Regions from separate parts of the Homo sapiens genome. Here all the other regions are linked to region 2. The links come from fine-mapping of genetic effects on gene expression. A gene starts in region 2. Each other region holds a variant in brackets. All regions are shown on one strand. Distances are from middle to middle.

Region 1 (8,269 bases), 82 kb after region 2:
CTTTATTTCAAATAGGATATTTCTCAGTCTCTGCAGGATCGTCCATAGCTCCTCTGAAATTTGGGTCAGTGCCACACTTAATTGGTTGTGGTAATGATAGGAATAGTGGTAGTGTTGTATTGGTGGAAACAATAGTAATAATAAGCATTTATTGAGTGCTGTAAAACGTGTTTCAAGTACTTCGTTTTCTTTAATCCTCAACAAACTTTCGAAAGATCTCTGTTATTTCCATTTTCTCTATGAAGGACCTGCCCAAAGTCAGATGGATAGTAACCTTCCTGAATTCAAGGCCTATACTTTGTCGACTATTTCTCATGAGGGAAAAAAAAGCCATATCTAGTATTATTTGTTTTCGCATCTTATAATCATGTTTGGGCTTCAATATGAATTTCCTCTCTACAACTGCTTTATCACAGGCAGTTTTGCTGGAAGAGGCTGGAATGGAGTGCCAAATAATGAGCAGAAATAATTTAAGCCTGGGAGGTGTTAAAAAATTAAAAAAAAAACTTTCGACAAACTAAATTTAACAGAATTTAATTGAGCAAAGAACGATTCTTGAATCAGCCCCCAGAACAAGAATAGGCTTAGAATGACTTCAGGGCTGCCGCATGGTCGGATAACATTTATAGACAGAAAACGGAAATGAGGCATAGAAACAGCTGGATTGGCTACAGCTGGGCGTTTGCCTTATTTGAACACGGTTTGAACAGTTGGCTGCCTCGGATTTGTTGCAACTTGGCTGCTGTGATTTTCCAAAGCTTGTCCTTGGATGAAGCACAGATTAATGTGAACCAAGGATACTTTAAAAGAGTTTTATAAACAGGTATAAAGGAAAGTAGAACATTATGCTTCCTAGACTAGGTCAATCCCAGTGAAAAAGTTAGTCTACGTTTACATCTTTTTTCTGTATAAATGGGGATTTAAGTAACTACTAATAAGGCTAAGGAAAACCATAGTACTATCCAAATGCCAGGGACATAGCTAAAACTCAGGAATGTCTTTTTATAGTTGGATCTCTATAGTCTTTCTGGATATACCTTTAAGGTGAGTGATTACAGTCCCCATTCACCCTAAGAAAATTCTTTAATTCAGCCCAGCCCAAAGCTACCTGAGAAACTTACTATTATTGCAAGCAGGTGTGTGAGAGAATCTAGTTGAAATGAATAATGATGCAAATGGATTTGCTGGTTGGAGTAAAGGTGGTGGAGAATTCCTCTCATTGGAAGCTGCTAAGGTTAATAAAATCTCATGACCACAAAGAGTTAAGAGTCAAGCCATAAGGTGGAAAGGGAACTTCTAAGTGGTAACTGAAAGTCTGGCCAGAAATAGCAACATGGGAGCGGAGCATAGGTTTAGGGATATGAGAGGCAGGAAGGGTGAGGAAGAACAGGTTTAGAGGAAACAGGCAAGAATTTCCAGACAATTACCTGATGCAGGTGCTGTGCACAGCTGGATTTCAGGTGCTCAGTGTATTGTGGTTGTGGAAGAATTATTTGAATGTAAAAGATAGGAGAGGTGGGGGAGGGTGTATGTGAGGGAGGCTGGCAAGACAGCAAGTTTGTGTGTGTGCGTGTGTGTGTGGGGGGGGGGGGCTTAAGGATGAAATCCAGTTTCCTTAGCAAGGCTGTACACAAGGACCTCAACCTGAGCCTTGCCTACCTCTTTCATAAGCAACCCACATACCAGTCCGTTGAAAATATGCCATCTTCTTACACATACATTCTTTTATGTGTACATGTTTCTTCTGATTTGACTCGTTAGATTTTATTCATCCTTCAAGTATTATTTCCCATGAGAAGTGTCCCATTGTGACTCCTAGCCTCCCACCCTCCTTATAGGACAGCCTTAGGCAACTCTGCTCTTTATTTCTTAAGTACTCTCCTTTTAACACTTAAATTCTAAGAATTTATTTAGTTCTTCATTTTCCCCATGGGAGACTGGACTCCTTGAAGGCAAGGGCCTTGTCTTAGTTATCTTTGTATCATATGATTCCGTGCCTGGCATAGTGGGTGCTTAATCAGCATTTTGACTGATTGATAGATGAAGTCTTGAGGACTCTATAAAATCAATACATGGATCATATATTGAATGAAGGATCAGTGCAGGTCAGTTTATCTTCTGAGGCCTGCCCAGCCACCAGACCCCTAAACTTTTCAGTTAGCTGGCTGGACAGTAACGTAGAGATGCTTGCATCTTTTCAAACATGGATAGGCAAAATAAGGGAGGGGAAAAAAGTTAATTTCCAGAAGTCAAAGATCTTAAATTTTATCAGCTAAAGTAGGATTATTTCTATTCCTTTAATGATAGTTCTGTAGTTGTTTTGGGGCATTTGGGTCATGCTACCTGTCAGGTGATGAGAAATATGGAGTTTATAGTTTAGGAGACATTACAGCAGTTGTGACTATTTACCCACAGGCTCTCTCCAAAAGAAGGTGCATTGTTGGTCATGTGGCAGGGGAAGGAAATCCTAAGTGCTTTTGTCATGAGACGAGGAGAGACTCGCGTTTGCGTGGTGTTCTTGGGTACACAAACAAGCGACTGGATGATTCAAATGATTGGATCGACAATGACTTGTTTCTGAAACGGAACAGATGTGACAGACAGGCTTCCGGAATCCACTGGCCACACATTCCATGTTCAACACTTATGCAGATTCTTTGCAAAATATTCATATTTTTATCATTTCTGCATATATTTATGTTTAGGTCTAAATGTTCAGGCAGCCAGAGGCCAATTATTTCTTCTTATGTCACTGTCCAGAAGTTAGGCTTTTAGGATGCTATACTTTAGAGTCCTGAGCTGCTTCATTCCTCGTCCTTGGACAAGCAAGGACTTGTAGAAATAATAACCCATAGGCCTGGCCTAGGAGGCCATGTGGTGCCTCCTGTCCAATCTTGCAGCACATTGAGATATAAAGGGCAGGCACTAGCAGTAGTGTCCTATAGGACCTTGACGGCAGAACAGGCTCAGAGGGAAACCGGGCTGACAATTCTGAACAGAGCTGCTCCAAGAGAAGGTGTTGGGTAGGAAACCAGCTTACAAGATCTTGGAGAACTGCCAAGGGGAGGAGGCTTGACTTGGACCTTAGATAACTGAGCCTAGAGCAATTCCTGAGCTAAGGAGCAGGTAGGTGGCTAAGGATCTGGTTTCCCACACTTGTGGGTGAAAACATCGTTAAGGCTAATTAAAGGAACAGTAGAAGCAGTTTCCAGTCAGGGTTTCATTGTTAAAGAAGGCTCTGTTTTGAAGTGTGCTGGTACCTCAGGGGCCTCAGCTGTAAGACCGTCTGGAAGGAGTCACAGATGAAAGAACTGACGTGGCCATGGAAGCTGGCTCTGAGGTGGAGCACCAGGAATCCAATGCACAGTGTTCAACGTGGGGCCCCTGTCTAGAAGGGGGAGAAGTAACAGAAGGTGGGTGGTGGTACTATTTAAATTGGGGTATGAGGTGGGCTGTAGAGGAAGGTGCCTCCGTATACTGACACTGGATGATTTTTGTGTTTTCTGTAGGAGCGCAGGTATTGACTAAAGATGGGGGAGCAGGGTCGTACTTCATGGAGGAGCAAACTGTTGTTGGAAAAAAGAGGCTGCATAATTGTCTATATCGTACCCTATGTTCACATCTATGTTACATAAACAGTATAAGACAACAACAAAAATTTTGTAAAGAAAGAAAGGCTGGAATGAAATCACTGAACTATTAATTGAAAAAAATAAGCTTATATAGTTTAAAACAATAGATAATTCAAATTTTGTAGTGGACCTACGTTACAAATACATGGCAACACTCATCCTGTTTAATTACTTCACTGAAGTTGTTTGAATTCATGTCAAGGAGCCCACTGACCTTTAGGTAAGAATATGTCAGAAAGTGAGCAACCCCCTAACAAATGATCACACAGTACACAGGTCAAGCTTTGGCCACAAAGCATCCAAATTACACCAATAAATGCAGATATTTGAAACAGCATATTGAGAGGTAGATATGCCTTGGGGGTGTTAAACACTTTGGTTGTACTTTAGATATAAGTATTTTGTTCTTTTGTTCCGCCACACTGAGGCATTGTGAAGAAAATAGAGAAGACACTGTTGTCAAAGCACCTAACAGCGAAGGTTCTCTTAGACTTTCCCTGCCTTCCCCTTTGTCCCAGTACACCAGGACTGCCTAGGGCAGCTGTAACCTGGAGGCTTAACCTTTCTGACGATATAAACCCAGTAGCTGTGTAGGCCTTG[A/G]CATTTGGATAACTCTGCTGCAAATGCCCTTCATTTCTTGCCATTTACCCACACCACTTCCTAGCAACCCACATTTCCCATGTGATCTCTAGCAGAACAGGGAAAATATCCTAAAATTCTGTTGATTGGGCAGCCGTGACTGTTATCACGTACTCAACAAGTAGTGGTGAAAAAATACACCAGATGTACAAGTAGAATATAGGCCAGTCAGTTGATGAGCTGGAATTTTTGTAACCACCTTCTTGCCTCTAATATCTTTGGAGTGTTTTTATGATAGGGGTTAAACTAAGCACTAGTGCCTGAAATTCTTTGCTGCAGGTACCGAATGCTCTTAGGTTCGGCATCTCTAGGGAACCTTTTAATTTCATTGCATAGTTGTGCTTAGTACTTGTTTAATGGAGCAATAACAGTTCCTCTTTTCTTAATTAAAAGAATTATGTAAGAAAACTAGTACAGAACAACAAAATCTTCTATAATCCAACCACCTCAACTCTTCATAGAGATAGGTGTTTTTAAATAACAAAGGTCATGGAAACAAAATTATATAAAAATATTTTGTTTTATGCACTGCCACCTAACATTATTTCAAACTTCTAATGTTTATATACCATCTCTTTAATTATACCTTTATAATTTTAAGGGGTAACATTTTATCATGTAGATGACTATGGTACTAAATCCATTATTAGACATTTAAATTGTTTCCAAGTTGAAACCAATAAAAATGCTGTGGTTAAAATCTTTATTTATATAGCTTTTTGTTTTCATAGACATGAAATTGTAAAAAGATACAAAAACTTTGTTAACACTACAGTTCTTTCCAAAAAATTACAGTAAAATGTGATACAACCAATTCATATAAAATGGTAACTTGAGTCTTTTTAAAAACAGCTTTATTAAGATATAATACACATGCCATATAATTCACTCATTTAAAATGTACAATTCAGTGGTTTCTAATATATTCAGTTGTACAACCATCATCAAAATCAACTTTATAACATTTTCATCACCTCCCCCAAAACCCCCATACCATCAGAAGTCACTCACCATTTTCCCACAACCCCGTCCAGCCCAAGTTATCACTGAGCTTCTTTCTGCCTCCGTAGATTTGCCTGTTCTGGAAATTTCATGTAAGTGGTATCATGCAATATTGTGGTCTTTGTGACTGGCCACATCTACTTAGCATGTTTTTGAGATTTTTTTATAGGCAAAAGATACTCCTTCATATGGATATAGCACATTTTGTTTATCCATTCATAAGTAGACAAACATTTGAGTTATTTCCACCTTTTGGCTATTATGCGTAATGCTACGAACATTTGTGTACAAGTTTTTGTGTGGACATGTGCTTTTATATTTCTTGGATTTATTTCTAGGAGTGAAATTGCTGAGTTGTATTCTAATTCTTGATTTAACCTTTTGAGGAAATGCCAAGACTGTTTTCTGGAGCTGCTGTACCATTTTAGGCTCCCACCAGCAATCTTGTGAGAGTCCCAACTTCTTCACAGCCTCATGAACACTTGTTGTTATCTGCCTTTTTAATTATAGCCATCCCAGTGAAGTGGTATCCTACTGAGGTTTCGATTTGCATTTCAAAGGATCCTTTAAGTTTTTTTATTTTTTAAATTAACTTGTGTAGGGTTGAAAGCATTTTACAATGTACATTTTAAAAATCAGTGTGATTTATAGAGGGCATGTGCAAAGCACCATGGAAAACACACAAATGAATCATCTCATAGATTGTGAGGGAAATGGAAATATGCCATGAGAAATGAATGTAAGGTCAGGAATAGCATACCATAAAAATGTAAAACTAACATTTGAATGGCAGTTTATAATTCCATAGCACTTTTTCACATGTGTTAACTCATTTACTCGGAATAATTATCATAATTGCTGTACAAAGGCATCTTGAAAAATGTAAAGGAGTTGTTTTTAGAACTTCTTTAAGGTTAGTAAAAATATACTGCATGCCAAGACATTAAAAATTGTTTTAATGTGGGAAAATTTTAATGGACTAAAAATACTGACAAGTTGTTCTTATTTTTGTTTTAATAACAGAGAAAATGGCTAAAGGAATAGCAAAATAGTTTTAATTGGGATTTAATATTGCATTTTTAAATAAAAGACTGTTAGTCATCAAAATGCTTTAATGATCTGTGTTTATATAAATTTAATCTGAATATAATCAAATATTAAAAAGAAAAAGAAGCGTCAATGTGAGGGGCGGGGGGACGTGTTTTACTGATATTATTTGAGATGCATGACAGAATAGCTATTCTCAAAAAATGCTCTCCTTGGTTAATACAGAATTTTACCTTTTTGTTACAAAACTATTATATGGCCATTATAGAAAAATATAGAAGATTCATAAGGATACGAAAAAAACCTTCCATTATCACCACCCATAGAAAAATTACTGCTAAAATTTACATTTATTTCCAGTCTTTTTACTGTACTTTAAAAAATTTCCTGAACTTGATACATAACCTTTTGGTTCCACATGTTATAAGCATTTCCTGTGTTTTTTAACTTTTCATAAATATTGTTTCAGTTATTGTGAACAATTCTGCAAAGAGAATAGACCATCTATGTATTATTTACCTAATTCTGGACACTTTACTTGCTTATGGTTTTTTAGTGTCCTAATAATCTGACAGGTATTTTTGCATAGAATGTTTGCATTTTAGAGAATTTGTTTATGGTAGATTCCTAGGAGAAGCGTTATATTGTCAAAAGTATGACAATTATCAGTTATTTTAATATTTATTACCAAATTGTTTCTCCAAATTTTATTCAATATACTTTTTGCCTGAAGAGTATTCGTGCACTTACCCATTTATGTATTCAATAAATATTTAATGGGAACTTGCTGTGTCCAGTTGCTAGGTGAAGTGCTGGTGCTAACTTAAACATCCATGGGCACTGTCTTACTTTTTTAGGTTTTTAAGGTTTTAGACTTCCTGATTTACAGTGAAATGTTCTTTGAGCTTGCATTTTTTTTTTTTAACTTTCATTTTAGATTTGGGGATACATGTAAAGATTTGTTACATAGGTAAACGTGTCATGGGGGGTTGTTGTACATATTATTTCATCACCCAGGTATTAGGCCCAGTATCGAATATTGTTTCTGTTTCTCTCCCTCCTCTCATGCTCCCCCATTAAGTATGCCCCAGTATTTGTTTCCTTCTTTGTGTTCATAAGTTCTTACCATGTAGCTCTTGCTTATAAGTGAGAACACGCAGTATTTGATTTTCTGTTCCTGCCTTAGTTTGCTAAGGATAGTAGCCTCCAGCTCCATCCATGTTCCCACAAAAGACATGATTTCATTCTTTTTTATGGCTGTGTAGTATTCCATGGTGTTATATATACCACATTTTCTTTATCCAATCTGTCATCGATTGACATTAGGTTGATTCCCTGTCTTTGCTATTGTGAATAGTGCTCGCATTTCATTTGGCTTGCAATTCTTTTAGCTATTACTAATGGTGTTTAAAATTTCCCCATACTCATTGGTTGTTTATTTTTATTTTCCCTTTGGCCATTTATCTATTAATGTTTTGACAAAAGTAAGGAAACTATAGTGGATTTCTATGTTGTTTTTGTACAGGAACCTCAAAAACCTTACTTGCATTTTAGAACAAAGACATTCGTTAATTTAATAAAATATTTTAGTTTGTTACTAAACCAAGTATCCATCTTTGTCTTGAATAGAGTCTAGCACACTCTAGACCAAGTATGTTTTATGCCTTCCTTGCTTTTGGGAGAAGAAATAGGTTATAAATGGTAAAGTTATGACAAGTTTGCTAGGTTGTTTAGTTTATTCTTGGGTTAATTGTAGGCATGGGGACATTTTTAGTATTAGACTGGATAACTCCTTCTCTGTCCTGGTAACTGATTGATTGTCTGAAGGATTCATATTGGGAGGCAGAGTGGTAATCAATATTGTAGGCTGAGGTCACTGACAGAGGCCAAAGACAACAATGTGTGAAATTTAGGATGAATTGCTTTTTGGGTTTTATCTGGATTTACTA
Region 2 (8,269 bases):
ATGTATTAATATACATTAAAATTAATTATATATGTATTATATATATTAAAATATATGTATATAATAACACAGGAATGAATGGGGAATCCCATGAAATCCTATTTACCCCTGGGGACTTCAAACGAGAATGTGTAAATAGTACCTTAAGCCCCAGGTAGGCAAGGACCATTATTTCCGTTTTCTTGGTTCCCTTTGATAAGCAAATTGACCAAATTTAGTAATTTCGAATTCATAGGCATTGTATCATCTACTTCACATGTTCCACAGAGGAATGCATTTCGGTAAGGATTATCAGAGACAGCTTTTTCTCTTAGGCAGGCAGTATGGTATATTGTGAAAATGTGGGCCTTGGCCGGGCTTGGTGGCTCATGCCTGTAATCCCAGCACTTTGGGAGGCTGAGGCGGGCAGATCACTGGGTCAGGAGTTTGAGACCAGCCTGGCCAACATGGTGAAATCCCATCTCTACTAAAAACACAAAAAATTAGCTGGGTAGGGCACCTGTAATCCCAGCTACTCAGGAGGCTGAGGCAGGAGAATCGCTTGAACCCAGGAGGCGGAGGTTGCAGTGAGCCGAGACTGCGCCACTGCACTCCAGCCTGGACAACAGAGACTCCGTCAAAAAAAAAAAAAAAAAAAAGGAAAGAAAGAAAATGTGGGCCTCCAGGTCAGAATGATTTGGGGTCAAGACTTTTTCTTAAACTTGCAACCTCAAGTGAGTCACTATCCTCTCTAGTCCGAGTTTCCTCAGCCTTGAGGTGGTGATAACACCTACCCTGCTGGGTGGTTGTGAAGATTAGTAATTTTGTTGATAAAGTGATCTCTTCAGGTATGGTCCAGATTGAGTGTTCTCAGCTAGGCTGTGCATTTCCATTAGGAAATGGGCTTTATTGAACTGGATATCCCTAGAGTCTAGTACAATAACATATATTAGGCACTTAGTAGCTGTTTATTTTTTCATTTTTTATTTTTTATTTTGAGACAGGATCTAGCTCTGTCACCCAGGCTGCAGTGCGAGGGCTTAAGTGATCCTCCTGCCTCGGCCTCTCGAGTACCTGGGACTACAGGCATGCACCACCACACCCAGCTAATTTTTTAACATTTATTTTTTGTAGAGATAGGGTCTCACTGTGTTGCCCAGTCTGGTCTCAAACTCCTGGGTCCATGCAATCCTCTCGGCCAGTAACTGTTTATTAAGCAAGGATCACATAAATACTCCACTAACAAGCTGGGCATGGTGGCTCACGCCTGTAATCCCAGCACTTTGGGAGGCCGAGGCGGGCAGATTGCTTGAGGTCAGGAGTTCGAGACCAGCCTGGACGACATGGTGAAACCCCATCTCTATTAAAAACACAAAAAATAGCCAGGCATGGTAGTGTATGCCTGTAGTCCCAGCTACTCAGGAGGCTGAGGCAGGAGAATCACTTGAACCTGAGAGACAGAGGTTGTAGTGAGCCGAGATTACACCAGTGTACTCCAGCCTGGGTGACAGAGTGAAATTGTCTCAAACAAAACAAAACAAAACAAAACAAAACAAAACAAAACAAAACTCCACTAACTTGTTAATTAGTGTATACCTTTGTATTGATCTATAACCTTTAACTTATTTATATTTTGTCTTTATTAATAGCCTCTTTGGGAAAATATTTTTCTTCTCCTTTCTCTTTAAAACACCTCCTACTCCCTCCCCCTACCAAGCTTAGAGCAAGTACATATTTCCAGGTTTGATTAAAGGCCAGAGTAGGATTTAGGAATTTCTTCAGAACACTGTTGAAACAATGCTGGAATATGACTTTGGATTAACATCCTTTTACCTTTCTAGGACTCAGCTCACACGACCATGATATTATTTTGTGGGTGGACTTTAAAAGATTTCTACATCAATTAAAACCTAGTTTGACTTAAGCCCTGCAAAATTTTACTTCCTTCCCAACAATAGGAAATCACAGCTCCCTTCTATGAGCAAAGTTGACTTGCAATTGCTCCTAACACATGTCAGAGGTGACACTTCACTCTTAAAGGTGCTTCTGAGGCTGCGGTTTCAAGAAGTCAGTAGTGTGAAAACTGGATCCCTATATGACAATTTTCAGGTAAAAAGAAAAAAGCATCAAGGAATTAAGAGTCGTACTGAGGGCTTCTTATTCTTCTAACTGATGATGATGATTTTTAGACAGGAGATATACGGACCTCGTATTGACTCTACTCCTAACTACGAACATGACCCAAGGACAATTACTTGAACTTTGGGAACCTCAGTTTTCTTATCTATAAGTGGAATTTACAAGGGGAAGATATGAGGATTGAAGGAGATAATGTATATGAAGTGCCTATGGAGCCGGGCACAGCACTTCACAACTGTAATCTCGGCATTTTGGGAGGCTGAGAAGGGAAGATCGCTTGAGCTTAGGAGTTTGAGACCAGCTTGGGCAATATGGTGAAACCCTGTCCCTACAAATAAAAAATTAAAAAATTAGCTGGACATGGTGGTGCCCGCCTGTAGTCCCAGGTACTTTGGAGGCTGAGTTGGGAGGATGGCTTTAGCCCACGGGGTTGAGGCTGCAGTGAGCCAAGATCGCACCACTGCACCCCAGCCTGGGTGACAGAGTGAGACCGTGTGTTAAAAAAACAAATAAATAAAGGGCCTATCAGTGTTTGGCTAATATTGTGATTAAGAATAAATCAGAGTTCCAATAAACTATTATTTCTAGAAAAAAAATAGTGAAAAAAATCACCTTAAAAATACCTTCCAAATTTTTTTCCCATTTACTTATTTGAAAACAGAATCTATTCAGGACAAAATTCTATCTTCAAGTACCAAATGGGTGATACAGTTCGCATTTATCCAAAAGCAGATTAAAGACAATGCCTTTTCTTGCCTACCTACTTGGAAAAGATCTCAGTGTCACTCAAATCACATTCCAAATCTCAACGACATTAAGGCCTCAAATCCTCTTAGGAAAGGTTTGAAGGTAGTTCATTTCAGTAATGATTAGACACTTGGGGACAAAACAGTACCTTGGCATCAAGGTCTGTACTGATTCACCAGCACAGAAATAGCAGTAACAAGATCTTCAACTCTGAGGTGTTCAAATAAGCAGACAAACTCCCTCGTGAGGCCCAGGCCTCTTGACATCCGGACTCAGTCTTTCTTTCTCAGATCGCCAAGGGTCTGGCCCATTTCTCAGCCTAAACCTATTTTGCGTTTAATTCAAACCAGTCAAAGTAACTTAACCGCCAGCAGTTAAAAAGCTACTAGGAGGAAGCGTAGGCAGGAGATGGGAGAGGAAAAGGCTCCTGTCAGGGTTTGGGCTTATGTGTGGATTCTTGAATTCTCCTTCTTTGTTCCTTTTAGCACTTACGATCAAGAACGGCTAGGCTGAGGGGGCAGGGGGGCCAGGCCACTGGAGCGAAACGGCCTCTCCGGATCTGGAGGCGTGGGAACCTCGGGAATAGTGGGGAGTTCCAGACCAGTTCCCTTCCCCCATCTGAACAAGTCCAGAGCGTGCGCCTTGAGAGGCGCTCGGAAACAGGGAAGCTGGGGACACGTAGCGAGAGACTGGTTGTCGCCCTGGCTGTCCGTCTTAGACCTAGCTTAGCGACCACCGCCTTCAATCCCTCAGCCCGGATCAGACGGTGCCAAAAGACAGCACTGCTTCCCAGCCTGGCCCAACGGCTCGGCTGCTGATTGGGCACCGCCGCCTCCCGCCCCGCCTCCCCTGCCACCTCGGGCGCCGCTGCACGTTTCCACTGGTCTTCAGCCCTGCCGATCAGTTTACTGCTCACCTCCCCCAAACAGCTCGTCAGGCCGGCGCGTGCTAGGAAGGCGGGGCCTGTGGCCTGTGGGGCGGAGCCTCGGTGGAGGTCGGCGCAGCTGCCCCTTTGGGCTTTGGCTCTGGACTGGAGCGCAGCATCCTTCGAGGCTGCAGCCGCCACGGCTGTTGCCGTAAGCAATCCTCCTGCCTCAGCCTCCCGAGTAGCTGGGACTCGGGACCAGCCTCCCGAGTATTGGTCAGGTAAAGAGAGTCTTGTCTGTTCTGCTGGCCATCTGCCCGTCTCTTCTTCCCGACCAAAGGCTGCCTGCTCCGCCTTCCCCCGTGGCTTTCAGGGTTCTTGGAATGAGGCATCAAGTCTATTTACCCCGCCAGCTTATCTTCCTCCCCTTCTGTGTCGGTTCCTCCAGCTCCCCCACCAAGCTGCTCCCAAGTACGTTGGTGGGCCCTCCGGGTCATCCCAACGCTCCTCACTACAGAACTCCTGTCGTTGACTCTCAGGTCCCAGCCCCCTTGACCCGCCAGTGCAGTCTCATTCCCAGCTTGGCACAGGAAAGGTGGAGGGCGGGAGGGCGGGAGGGCGGGGGACGGAGAGATGCAGAGCTTTTTTTTTTTTTTTTTTTTTTTTTTGAAGCTGGATGTGTTTAGCGCAGAGGGGGAGCACCACAATGGGATTGCATTGGGAACAGAAGCAGCTTCATGACTATGGTTGGCAATGACTAGAAAGGTATCTGTTGCTGCTTTTTGCTTGTGTTTATAGATGACATTTACCATCACCGTTTTCTTCTTCTTTCATCATCATCATCATCACCATTGCCACTACCACCACCTCCAAGGCCACTACCACCACAGCATCTCTGTTCCTCCATCAGAGCTCTTCAAGTTCTGTAAAGGCAGATTCTCTAAAGGCATGTAAGTGCTGACGGATCCCCCAACCCCCTCCCCCACCACCAAATAACGAACAGTGCTCTTGCCCCCTGAGGCCAGAGCCAAGCCCTCATTTAACTCAAGAACAAGTAGCTGGGAGCAGAGTGTGAGCTGGGAGGATTTTCCTTATCCTCATTTGCAATTGAGATTGCCAAAGAAAACCCTTTATTTTAATCATCCACATTTCTGCTTGCTGTCTCCTGGAGAGTTCCATGTTAGCACTCACACACTCCGAATGGGCTGAATGCAGAGCCTGAACCTGTGATATATATGGGGAGTGGCAGTCACTGAGAGGTGAATGTCCAGACCCAATCCTTTAAGAAGACCAGGTGGAGTAGCAGACAACCTGACTTTCTGCTACAGTAGCTCCAGCTGTACTAAAGCATGTTTACTATTCATGTTTGCATATGGGACATGTGCCATCATCTGCTATGCCCCCTTGCGTGTGTATTGGCAGGGGGGCGGAGGGGCGCATCTAAATTCCTAGGAGAGAGAATTATATTCTGTTCTCTACACCAGGTAGCATCTTATAGGCACACCAATGGGATTCAACAGCCGTTGCTTAGCTGTTTCTAGGGCTTACTGCAAATCTCTTGGATCACAGACTTATTAACCCTTTTTTGGGAGGGAAAACAGTATAGCTGAGAATTGCATACCAGATTAACTGTCGTTGTGGAAGATGTTGCTTCCACAATGAATCAATGAGGTCTCGGGTCTTCTTGATCAGATATCTAAACACTAGTCTCCTTTCTCTCAACTGTGTTACAGTCCAGGAGCAGGACCAATGAATAGTTAGACATATTGCAGGAACAAAGAAGCAATGGCCTCAATGGAGGGAAACAATGGAGAAGAGTAGTGAGACAGTATATTGTAATGGCTAAACTCATAAACCTGTCAGACATAGGTTCAAATCCTGGACCAGCCACTGACTAGCTCAGTGATTTTTGCAAGTTGCTTGCCTCTTTAATTTTAATTTCTCGTCTGTAAAATAGGGATAATACTACCTGTCTCTTAGGAGAAGGTGTGAGGATTAAACGAGATAATATAGGTAAAATACTCAGTAGTTTCTGGCACATAAGTGGGGAATTTATAGTAACTGCTATTAATAATACTAGTCAAGAAGGATAATAAAGGCCAGTCTCGTTCCTAAAAATTATGCATTTTTTTCCATTGTCTTTATCCTTTTTAGGTGTCAGAGCTGATGCAAATGGGGTATGGTAGTCTTCAGGTTCCTTATAGCACTACATCTTAGAGGGGTGCCACTATTGAAGCCACCTGTGTTTGGACAGGCATTTCTCTCACCAGCCTTCACAAGTACTTAGCCGATTCTTAGTTGAGATACGTTAAAGATGCAGCTTTAGAGAAGATTTCCAGGCCTCTGGCCCTATTCTAGACTGCTTCTTTCTCACTGAGTGTTCAATGCATTGACTGTGATTGATGAAGCCTTTGTCACAGGCTTAACCCTGCCTAGACCAAATGCTTTGGCCAAGGGAATGGGGTCCCATAGGACCTATGATTGTCTAAGGGTAGGTCTCATATCCTGGTCATCCTCCCTTTCCAGACATAAAATTGGTGGAGCTGTTCCCAGAGGAAGAGGAATGGGGACAGACTGGAACTTGATGTGATGATGGTAAATATCCTTGATAGAAAATTGAGAAATGCTTCTCTCCTATCTCATATACCATGCCTCAAAGTCTAGTTTTACGTTAAAGTTTTGGATTCATGCACACCATCCCAAGCTGTGGTGTGCTTTAGATGATCTTGCCTTTAATGGTTTTCTTATTAAAACTTTATTCGTATCAGTGTAAAAGTTCATAATGGATATTTCATATCTTGCAGTGATGCTACTGGTTGGTAGTATGACCACGTTTAGGGGCTATTCATAATCTCTTTTTGGGACCTGGTTTTAAGAGTAGCTATTATTTTTAGATGTACATAGTCTCTGTCTTAAATATCAGCTTAATTCTCAACAGGTCCCAGCCTGTGTTGACAGAATTACAGCTGTTAATCTGATTTGCCTGATCTTGCAGAGACGCTAAACCATGGGAATTGTATTCTCCTGCAGCAAATATAAGCTTGCACCAACAGGCTGGCACTGTGAAGGAACTGAAGCATCTCTGTATTTAGTGTCTGTGCTGAAGTGCTGACAAAGCATCAACCCCATGCTCTGCAAAATAGTAATTACTAAAGCGGGGAGATGTAAAGAAGGAAACAAACCTCTTTACCTTGTCAGCGCATAAAAGCAAGGGTCTGAGAAATGGAGCATTCCCTCTCACTTATGTTTCTCAAGTTCCCTGGCTAAAAGTAAACAATCTCCCAGAGTAACCTGGATTTCTGTGCTTATCTACGCTTTCAGCAAATACTGCCTTAGTGCATGTTTGAGGATGAGGGAGAGAGAAGAGAGTTGGTCCTCCTTGTGGACATCCTTACCTCCCCACTGGCCTGAAATGACCATGATCTCTGTAATGCATCTCTCTAGGAAGCAGACTACTAGTTAAGTTTTTTTTTCTTTAACCAACACACCTCCTATTTCCTTAACTTGATACTGACTTGTTTTATGTTCCATCTTATTCGAACTATGCCTATCTCTTCCTTCTAAAGTGTCATAGGTCACTGCTAATGATGAACACCTTTCAAATGAAACGCTTTTTTACTGTGGTCTTCCACGTGACAGGCTATTGGGCAAAATATTTTGGAGGTAGCCAGGACTTTTTTTTTTTTTTTGAGATGGAGTCTCGCTCTGTTGCCCAGGCTGGAGTGCAGTGGCACGGTCTCAACACACTGCAAGCTCCGCCTCCCGGGTTCACGCCATTCTCCTGCTTCAGCCTCCTGAATAGCTGGGTCTACAGGTGCCCACCACCACGCCTGGCTAATTTTTTGTATTTTTAGTAGAGATGGGGTTTCACCGTGTTAGCCAGGATGGTCTTGATCTCCTGACCTTGTGATCTGCCTGCCTCGGCCTTCCAAAGTGCTGGGATTACAGGCGTGAGTTACCACGTCCGGCCAGCCAGGACTTTTTAACGTTCATGTTTGTCATCAGGATCTGGGCATTAATGGAGAAGTAGCAGGGACCGCCAGAATGCTGACTGGGAGGATAGACAAGGCTGTAAAAGTGGGGCAGGAGACACCTTTATGATGCTGCTGCCAGGATACTAGTACTCACACCCCTGCCACAGGCCTTCCAGTATGAGTGCTCTAGTTCATGTTTTTGTTAAAGAAGCTCAGAGAACATGATACGATCTGAAGACTAGTAGTCTAGAAATGCGTCAGACAGCAGTGCTTGTTGTTAAACACTCCTTTAGCCATAGTTGCCCTGTTTTTCCATTTTTCCCCCACGTGAGTATCTATCCACATTCATCTAGGCCTAGGTGCTTTCTCCAATGATGTCCTCCGTGAAACATAAGGAAAAATATGGACCTCTCAAAGAGAAAGAGAACTGTCTACTTATTAGGAGAAGCCCTCCCTGGTGATTCACTCACCATAGTAATTTTGGGAAACCTCATGGTTTCCAAAACCTTAATATTTGCACAAATGAAATTCAAATGAAATTGAATGAATGCCATCTTTTGAGCAG
Region 3 (8,269 bases), 61 kb after region 2:
CTTACTCTTTGGGATTAGTTTGGAATCATACAGATTTCCTTTTTCCTCTTAGAAATATATATAGCTACCCTTCTCATTCAAGGTAGGCAGAGGGAACTCTGGAATGCTTCTAAAACTCCTACCCTGGCCTCTTAAGTAGAAGAGGCAAATGTAGAAGAGGTGCTTTGCTACTGAGTGCAGGCAACAGTGAAGGTCCCATGGCAACAGGGAATGGGGAAAGGCAAGGGTGGCATGGGCTGAAAGCCAGCTGTGAATAAGAACCACCAATTTCAGTGACATCTGTGGGTACACACTTCATTGCTTACCCAGAACTTTTACATACATTGTTATCAGATTCTCTTAAAAATCCCTGTTTGGGGAGGGTATGTTTTTCTGTCTTTTTTTTTTTTTTTTTTTTTTTTTTTGAGACGGGGTCTTGCTCTGTCGCCCAGGCTGGAGTGCAGTGTTGTGATTTTGGCTCACTGCAACCTCTGCCTCCCGGGTTCAAGCGATTCTTCTGCTTCAGCCTCCCAGGTAGCTGGGACTACAGGCTCCCGCCACCACGCCTGGCTAACTTTTGTATTTTTAGTAGAGACAGGGTTTCACCATGTTGGCCAGGCTGGTTTCGAACTCCTGATCTCAGGTGATCTGCCTGCGTTGGCCTCCCAAAGTGCTGGGATTACAGGCGTGAGCCACCATGCCTGGCATGTTTCTGTCTACTTTAAAAAATTATTTATTTGGTTATGTTCTACCTCATTCCAGAAATCATTTAAGGGACTTGCATTCAATATAGCAGATAAAAATACCTTTAAAACAGGTGATAGAAATTAAAGAGAAAACATTGTTTTTAGGGTTATATTGACCAGCACAAATTTATCTTGACTGATGACACATTTCAGAGCCAAACCCTGTAGAGCCATTACCACGATCCTTGCTTCTGTTTTTAGGAGGAAATAACTAAAACATGGTTCATCAAAAAAAACCACTTGCTTAGACATTTTCACCCTGAAATCTGTTATAAAATTAGGAAGTGGGAGTTTAAGAACTATTCCATAGTCCTATTTGAAGCTCTTCCCAAACACGTCTGTCTCTGTGTTTATGGTTATACGTCTTTCTTGTCTACGTGGGTAGACTGTATATATGCATAAAAATGTGTGTTTTTCATATTCTCCCATGAAATTTAAACCTCTCCAAGACATATACTTTTGTGCAATTTTTAACAGTCCTGTCCCTGAAGCAGATAATGACATCTCTCTTTGAGTGAGGATGGAGCTAAGACTCAGAGAGGGTACCTTGCTAAGTAAACAGCAGAGGGACAACATTGATGTTAAATCCTGTGTCCTCCCTTTGTACCACATTGTGATGTCATGGGGATAATTTCAGTGGCCATGAAGCCATCTGCTCTGAACTTAAGTAGTGAACACAGCTCCATCATTCTGATTATTTATATTTATATCTACAAAAGCATTCAAAACATTTTTTATTCAACAAATATTTATTGAATCCCTATCATATATTCATCATTGTTCTAAGTATAGTAGACAGAGCAGTAGGCAAAACAGAAAAAAGCAAAGCTAATTCCTGTCCTCATGGAGCTCACACTCATTCTAGAAGGGTGAAGACCAAAACATAATCAGCCAATTGTATACTCTATGTACAGCAGGGCATGTGGGTGATGGGAAAAGACATTCCATGGTTTTTTTGGTTCATAGAATAGAACAGTTAGTATTGGTACGCAATGCACGATAAGAATTCTATCCAGTGTTAAGTAGTATATTTTAAGAACATTGCATAACCTTGGGGAAGTAACCTAACTGATTCCACTAGCATTCCAACAGAGAGAGTCCCATCTTACACAGTCCTTGCCAGCCAAGCTCTCGGTTTCTCCAGCTTCACTAACCTCTGGCACGAGGCCTCCTTGTTCCTGAGGGAACTGCTTTTCTCATATTTCAGAAGGACAGTGCATACTTGTGTCAAGCTGAAAGGGATCTTTCCTACTTGATGCCAGCGAGAAGCAGTGCCAGGGAAGACAGACTGACAGAGCAGACATTCTCCTCCCTAACTGGGTTATTCTGTGCTGTGCTGTGCAGTGGCTTATCTTATTTTGAGATCTTCCTGCTGTTGTCCAGTTTGTACCAACATTGCAAAATCAATATTCTCTTTATTTCTAAGGGCACATTTTTACAAAACAGGACTTCAGAAAAAGGGTGAGATGATAAAGACTCTCAAAAGGTTACACTGGCCTTTTGAAAAAATAATTTATGTAGAGAACCTTCTAGCGCAAGATCCTCAAATAGTTGTATATTTAACATCTAAAGTGCAAGTCAAACATTTTGTGTGAATTTTGACACTTAAAAAACATTCCTTGGGAGACCAAAAAAAGCGGGGCTTTGGAAGATAATATGAAGGGAGAAACTCAAAAAGCAAAATATTTCCCATGTATAGGCTACCTTTATTTTAGCTGTGAAACATTGTAACTCAAAATGTTTTCCTACTTATTTATTTATTTTTGAGACGGAGTCTCACTCTGTCACCCAGGCTGGAGTGCAGTGGCACGATCTTGGCTCACTGCAACCTCCACCTTCCAGGTTCAAGCGATTCTCCTGCTTCAGCCTCTTGAGTAGCTGGGATTACAGGCATAAGCCACCACGCCTGGCTAAATTTTGTACTTTTAGTAGAGATGGGGTTTTGCCATGTTCGCCAGGCTGGTCTTGAACATCTGACCTCAGGTAATCTGCCCACCTTGGCCTCCCAAAGTGCTGGGATTATAGGCGTGAGCCACCGCACCTGGCCTTCCATTTTTAAATTTTTCAGAAAAAGTGAGATAGCTGAATGTCAGAGAGCTTAAGCAACTTGTAGGATCATAGTTCTTTTCTTTCTTCTCCTTTCGGTGCTCTCCACTTGACTTTGTGGCCCACAGCCCAAACGTTGGTTGTGAGGCTACCCCAATCGACTACTGTTTCCCCTAATGTCTAGCGGATCTAGAACTCCCATAGTGCAGCAGCCAGGTGCAAGGTGAGGTGATGAGGCAGCTAGAGAACTTGTTTTGAAACTGCATTTACATGCCAAACACACACTTTTTATTTAGATGGTTGTTCACTGGGTAATTTGGGGTGAGGTGAGGTGGAACTGTTACCTCAGCATCCTCCCCCACAACTGCCTCCTGAGACATCCCTGGGCCATCCAGTGGCATCCTTGCCACAGTTTTGTCTCTTTATTTAATTGTTATGTTATTTTCTATAATCCCACTTAAAATTGTAAATTGGCTGGGTGTAGTGGCTCACACTTGTAATCCCAGCTCTTTAAGAGGCCGAGACAGGAAGATCACTTGAGCCCAGGAGTTTGAGACCAGCCCGACCAGCATGGCAAAACCCTATCTCTACAGAAAATACAAAAAATTAGCTGGGCATGTGTTGTGTGCCTGTAGTCCCAGCTACTTGGGAGACTGAGGTGGGAGATCACCTGAGGGAGTTCAAGGCTGCAGTGAGCGATGACTGTGCCACTGCACTCCAGCCTGGGAGAGTGAGACCTTTCCTCAAAATAAATAAATAAAAAATAAAATGAGATGTAGAATTAATTATCTAATTTTGTAATTTATTAGGTCTACTTATCATTTTATAGATGGCTGGCATGGCTTATAAAAGCTTTGTGGTTTGATCTTAGTATCCTGGACTAATGTTTCATCTATAGCACAGGTTGGAAGTCGGCACACCTAATTGTGCTTTTCTGAACTCTGAGCAAATAGTTTGATATATTTGCCCTTAGTTACATTTATTATAAAACGGGTAGAAACGTTAATGTTCCTTCCATTGTCCCAAAGATGTATCAACATGCCCCTGTGGCTTTAGGATCCTTTGAAGAAAGCATTCATACTTACAGTTATCATTAGCCACAATTACAGAAACTGTGGGGTTGAGAAGGTCATCTAGCCTCATCTCTATTTCTAAGCCAGAGTTCCAGAGAGTGACTTTCCTTAGGTCAAGTAGCTAATGGGCACCAGAGCCAGAATTAGGAAACAGGTCTCTAGCACTCCAGTTAATGCTCTTTCTTCTACAGTTTCTATGGCCCTGTTCGTACTCTTTGGCCCAGCCATTTACAGAGAACCATAGATCTGTGTTCATATTGTGAGAGGTTCCTTAGAGACCAGAAGACTGATCTCTGAGAAGCTCAGGGACTGTGTCTTGCTCAGAGTCGCAGAGGCTGTAGGTGCTGGAACTGGGACTAGAGACCAAGTCCCTGACTCCCAGCGCACTGTTCTTTCAACCACACACTCTCCTTCTTTGTTGATGGCTGTGCCTTGGGAGGGTTCTAACTCATAACCTAAAGATCCCCATGAACTCAGTTGCATAATCC[C/T]CTCTTCCTTGTGAGTTAACTGTTGAGGGACACACAGTTCTATGTAGTGATGGTGCCTGATGTGGGAGGCAAAGAGATGCAGTGCTTGGCCCCCTATCCCTGTTATAAGTCTGTGACTTGGGGCACTTCTGTAGGCCTGGGTTTTACAAAGCGAGGGCAGTTAATTAGGCATTCCTTTCTGTTCCAGAATTCTGTGGTCCTTTCCCAGGCATGTATGTTTCTTCATGTTTTGTCCAGTAGAGGGGGGTGTGTGCTCACAGACTAACAACCCCTCTGGACTTCTCCAGGTTGGATTATTGTGGAGACATCTTGAAGATGTGGTCAAAGAGGTACAGGTCCAGGCAGGCATGTGCATGGGAGGAGCTAGAGACAGTGATGGAAGAGTTCAAGTGGCTGTGCTGTCTGAAATTACAAAAGGAAATTAAAGGTGTTCCTAGGAAACAAATCACCAAGGCCCCCGAAGTTCTTTTAGGTTTATGTCTCACCAAGAAGAATAATAGGCTGGAAAGCTGCAGGTTTGGATGTTCCTGTTGCAATTCTTCCCTCCGCTCTTAGGTGTGGTGAGTATCCTGGGTATAATACATGCATATAATATTAATACTGCAAACGACCTGGCACTTTTCTGTGACTTACAGAGCTCTAAATCAGCTCTGGTCTGAGGCTCCTTTTCCAAATGACATGATGTGGGCTACATTGGAAAGAAATATAGTATTCCTTACAGGAGCCAGTTGCACACAGGCAGCTTCTTTATGCCTGAAGCCTACGTGCTGAGTTCTGAGAAAGACTAGCTGATTCTTTCATCTTGAAAGTGATAGACTACAGTAGTACAAGAGAGCGGGAATGAGAAGTGTGGTTATAGAGAAGCTGAAGCTGTTGAGTAGTTTTGGAGAAGTGCTGATTTATTGAAAATATTCAGCTGCTTATATTTGGTATTATTAGAATTGAGACAAGCATATTACAGCCAGGAAAGAAGGAAGAGGGGGAAGGGGAGACAAGCTGAGGACTTAGAGAGTGAGTAATGGGAATAAAGAAAGGAGGGAAAAGAAAATTCTTGACTTTCTTCCAAGCCAGCTGTGGAAGATGTTATTTTAGATCCTTTGCCTAACTGGTCTGAATGATTGCCCCAGGTGGAAAGGAAGGCAAAGGTCATTTCGGGGCACTTCCTGGGACTTGACTGCCTTTATCTTGTTCTTGTTCTCTCCTTCTTGTAGAGAGGGTCAAAGCAGGTGTGGAAAAATAATGATCCGTGCTATTCAGACTAGTATCTTTCTTTGGGGATCTTAAAATGCTTTTATCACATCTACTTAAACAGCATTTAATAGCATGGTAGAGATGTTTCACTCACTTGAGGCTGCATTGCCCTCAGAGGCCACTTACCTAGTAAGTGTTGACTACACCTTTGTACTGCACTTTTCCAGGGCTCAGACCTCCCCTCCCCATCAGTTTCCTGATGGCCTATCCTCATGGCTGCTCGGGCTGGTTGCTTTGAGGAGGTGGCCTACAGTGATATTATCTCTCTGCATGAAACTCACAGTGGGGTAGTTGTATTTTTGAAGGATATTTCCTGCAGCAAGCACTTGGTGTTGCATATTATTACGTTCACAGTTTGTGAGAGATCATGAAGAATATGCAGTGGTCTGGGCCACACTGACACACAGTGAGAAAGTATATCAATGACTAGTTATGATTAGAGATCGTTTTCAACACTTGTTTCCATCTTCAGCTGACATTTACTTGTTCAGAAAGAGAGCCATAAAAGTCAATAAAAATAATAACCATGCACATCTGCACATCCTGATTTTAATACAGCTTTTTTTTTTTTTTTTTTTTTGAGATGGAGTCTCACTCTGTCACCCAGGCTGGAGTGCAGTGGAGCGATCTCAGCTCACTGCAGCCTCTGCCTCCTGGGTTCAAGTGATTCTTCCGCCTCAGCCTCCCGAGTAGCTGGGATTACAGGTGTCCACCACCACACCTAGCTAATTTTTTGTATTTGTATTTTTTGTAATTTTTTGTATTTGGCCAGGCTGGTCTCAAATTCCTGACCTCAGGTGATCCACCTGCCTCGGCCCCCCAAAGTGCTGGGATTACAGGCATGAGCCACCGCACCCGGCCTAATACAGCTTTTTACAGTTTACAGTGCTCTTTCATAGACATTATTCTATCTGATTCTCCTACCAACTCTATGACAACCATCACAAGTATTGTTTGCTCTACAGATGTAGAAACTGAAGCCTAGAATTGAAGTAACCTTGGCTAAAGAAACACAGCTAGTAAGAAATAGAACCAAATCTCCCATCTAGTTTTTCTCAGTACAAGTTTTAAAAATTATAACAGCCCAAAAATAAAATAAATAAAATTAAATCAAAACATCTTAATAGACAAGCAAATGTAAGTGTTTTGACTCTGAAACGAATACAGACTCTAATAATATTCAGTGTGGTATTACATACATACTGGAGACTCAAATTATTTTTAAAACTAATACATAAAAACTGCTCCAAACCCTAAAACTCTGAAATTATCACTTAATGATTTGGGCTTTTGAAAATGCATATACCTATTAACAAAATTGCCTTATATCACAGCATTTTCTTGTCATCAAAATTGCTTAAAATTAATTTTAATGTTTGCACATACTCCAGTGGATGAAATCACCTTAATTTTTTAAACCTCCTTATCTCATTCTTAGGTTGCTGATCTTTGCTATAATAAACTACAGTGCAGCCCACAACTTGTCTCAATCTCTGTTGATATTTCTACATTGTTTCATAAAACTGATTCTTAACCTTAAGCATTTGAAAAATTGTCTATATATTTAGTTTTGAAGTGTGTATATTTATGTATATACATGTAGGGCAATATTTTGAGTTCTGTACAGTCTTCTGAACACAACGAATTTCTCCTCAATGACATAAATAGTTATAATAAATAATGAAAATAGAAAGAAAATGCTAGCAGGGCAATCTTAACTGGCATAAGAGGAAGGTTTTCTGAATTTGCAGGAACTTGGATCAAGAATGAAAAAATAGGCTGGGTGCTGTGGCTCATGCCTATAATCCCAGTACTTTGGAAGGCCAAGGCAGGTGGATCACGAGGTCAGGTGGATCACGAGGTGGATCACCAAGGCAGGTGGATCACGATGGATGAGACCATCCTGGCCAACATGGTGAAACCCCGTCTCTACTAAAGTACAAAAAAAATTGGCTGGGCATGTTGGCGTGTGCCTGTAGTCCCAGCTACTTGGGAGGCTGAGGTAGGGGAATGGCTTGAACCTGGGAGGTGGAGGTTGCAGTGAGCCGAGATTGTGCCACTGCACTCCAGCCTGGGCGACAGAACGAGACTCTGTCTCAAAAAAAAAAAAAAAAAAAAAAATTGCTAGTCAACTCTTTTCTGGTCAGAGGTGTGAGCCATGGAGGCAGTCTGGTTATCTTACAAAATGTCTCAGACTTGGAGTAAAGCCCTGGGTCCATATCTTGGCTCTGCCAGTGATCAGCTGTGTGACCTGAGCCACCCTCAGATTCAGTCTCCTCATCTGTAGGATTGGGGTGACACCCACGACAGTGGATGGTTGTGAGACTCATAAGGTCATGCTTATGGAGGTGTCTGGGATGGCATGCATGCCAGGAAGTGGGCATCAGCATATACCAGTTTAACCTGTCAGTTGAAAGGTATGTTAGAAATAGAAGTATTTCAACTTACCCATGTGCAGGTACTGAGAAAGCTCTCAAAGATACCCAGATTTCAACAGTGTTTTGGTAATCTTACCACGGTTATTTATACACATTGCTACACCAGCCTCAGATTTATTTCAGCTCAGTTAAGTTTAGTGATTTACCTCATTTGGAAAAGAAGTATGGCATACTATATTATTTATATTTAAAGCACATATTTATAATCTGAAATTTCTAGATTTCACTGAGTGGTTTCAATTCCTGTC

The links.
Region 1: its variant is fine-mapped to the expression of FMN1 in whole blood (INTERVAL, PIP 0.95).
Region 3: its variant is fine-mapped to the expression of FMN1 in testis (GTEx, PIP 0.91).

Annotation. Positions count from the first base shown.
Region 1 is chr15:33,108,815-33,117,083 of GRCh38, reverse strand. All of the region lies in intron 4 of FMN1 (formin 1), which reads left to right. Among named protein-coding and RNA genes, the nearest start is that of FMN1, 82 kb to the left of the region's middle. The variant A/G (reference allele first, on the strand shown) is at 4,233.
Region 2 is chr15:33,190,320-33,198,588 of GRCh38, reverse strand. FMN1 (formin 1) reads left to right here and starts at 3,875. Exons shown (of 21, transcript NM_001277313.2): 1 at 3,875-4,011; 2 at 4,529-4,680. LOC105370759 (a long non-coding RNA gene) reads right to left here and starts at 3,678. Exons shown (of 3, transcript XR_932090.3): 1 at 3,014-3,678. RefSeq lists silencers at 3,573-3,782, 3,557-3,896.
Region 3 is chr15:33,129,223-33,137,491 of GRCh38, reverse strand. All of the region lies in intron 4 of FMN1 (formin 1), which reads left to right. Among named protein-coding and RNA genes, the nearest start is that of FMN1, 61 kb to the left of the region's middle. The variant C/T (reference allele first, on the strand shown) is at 4,333.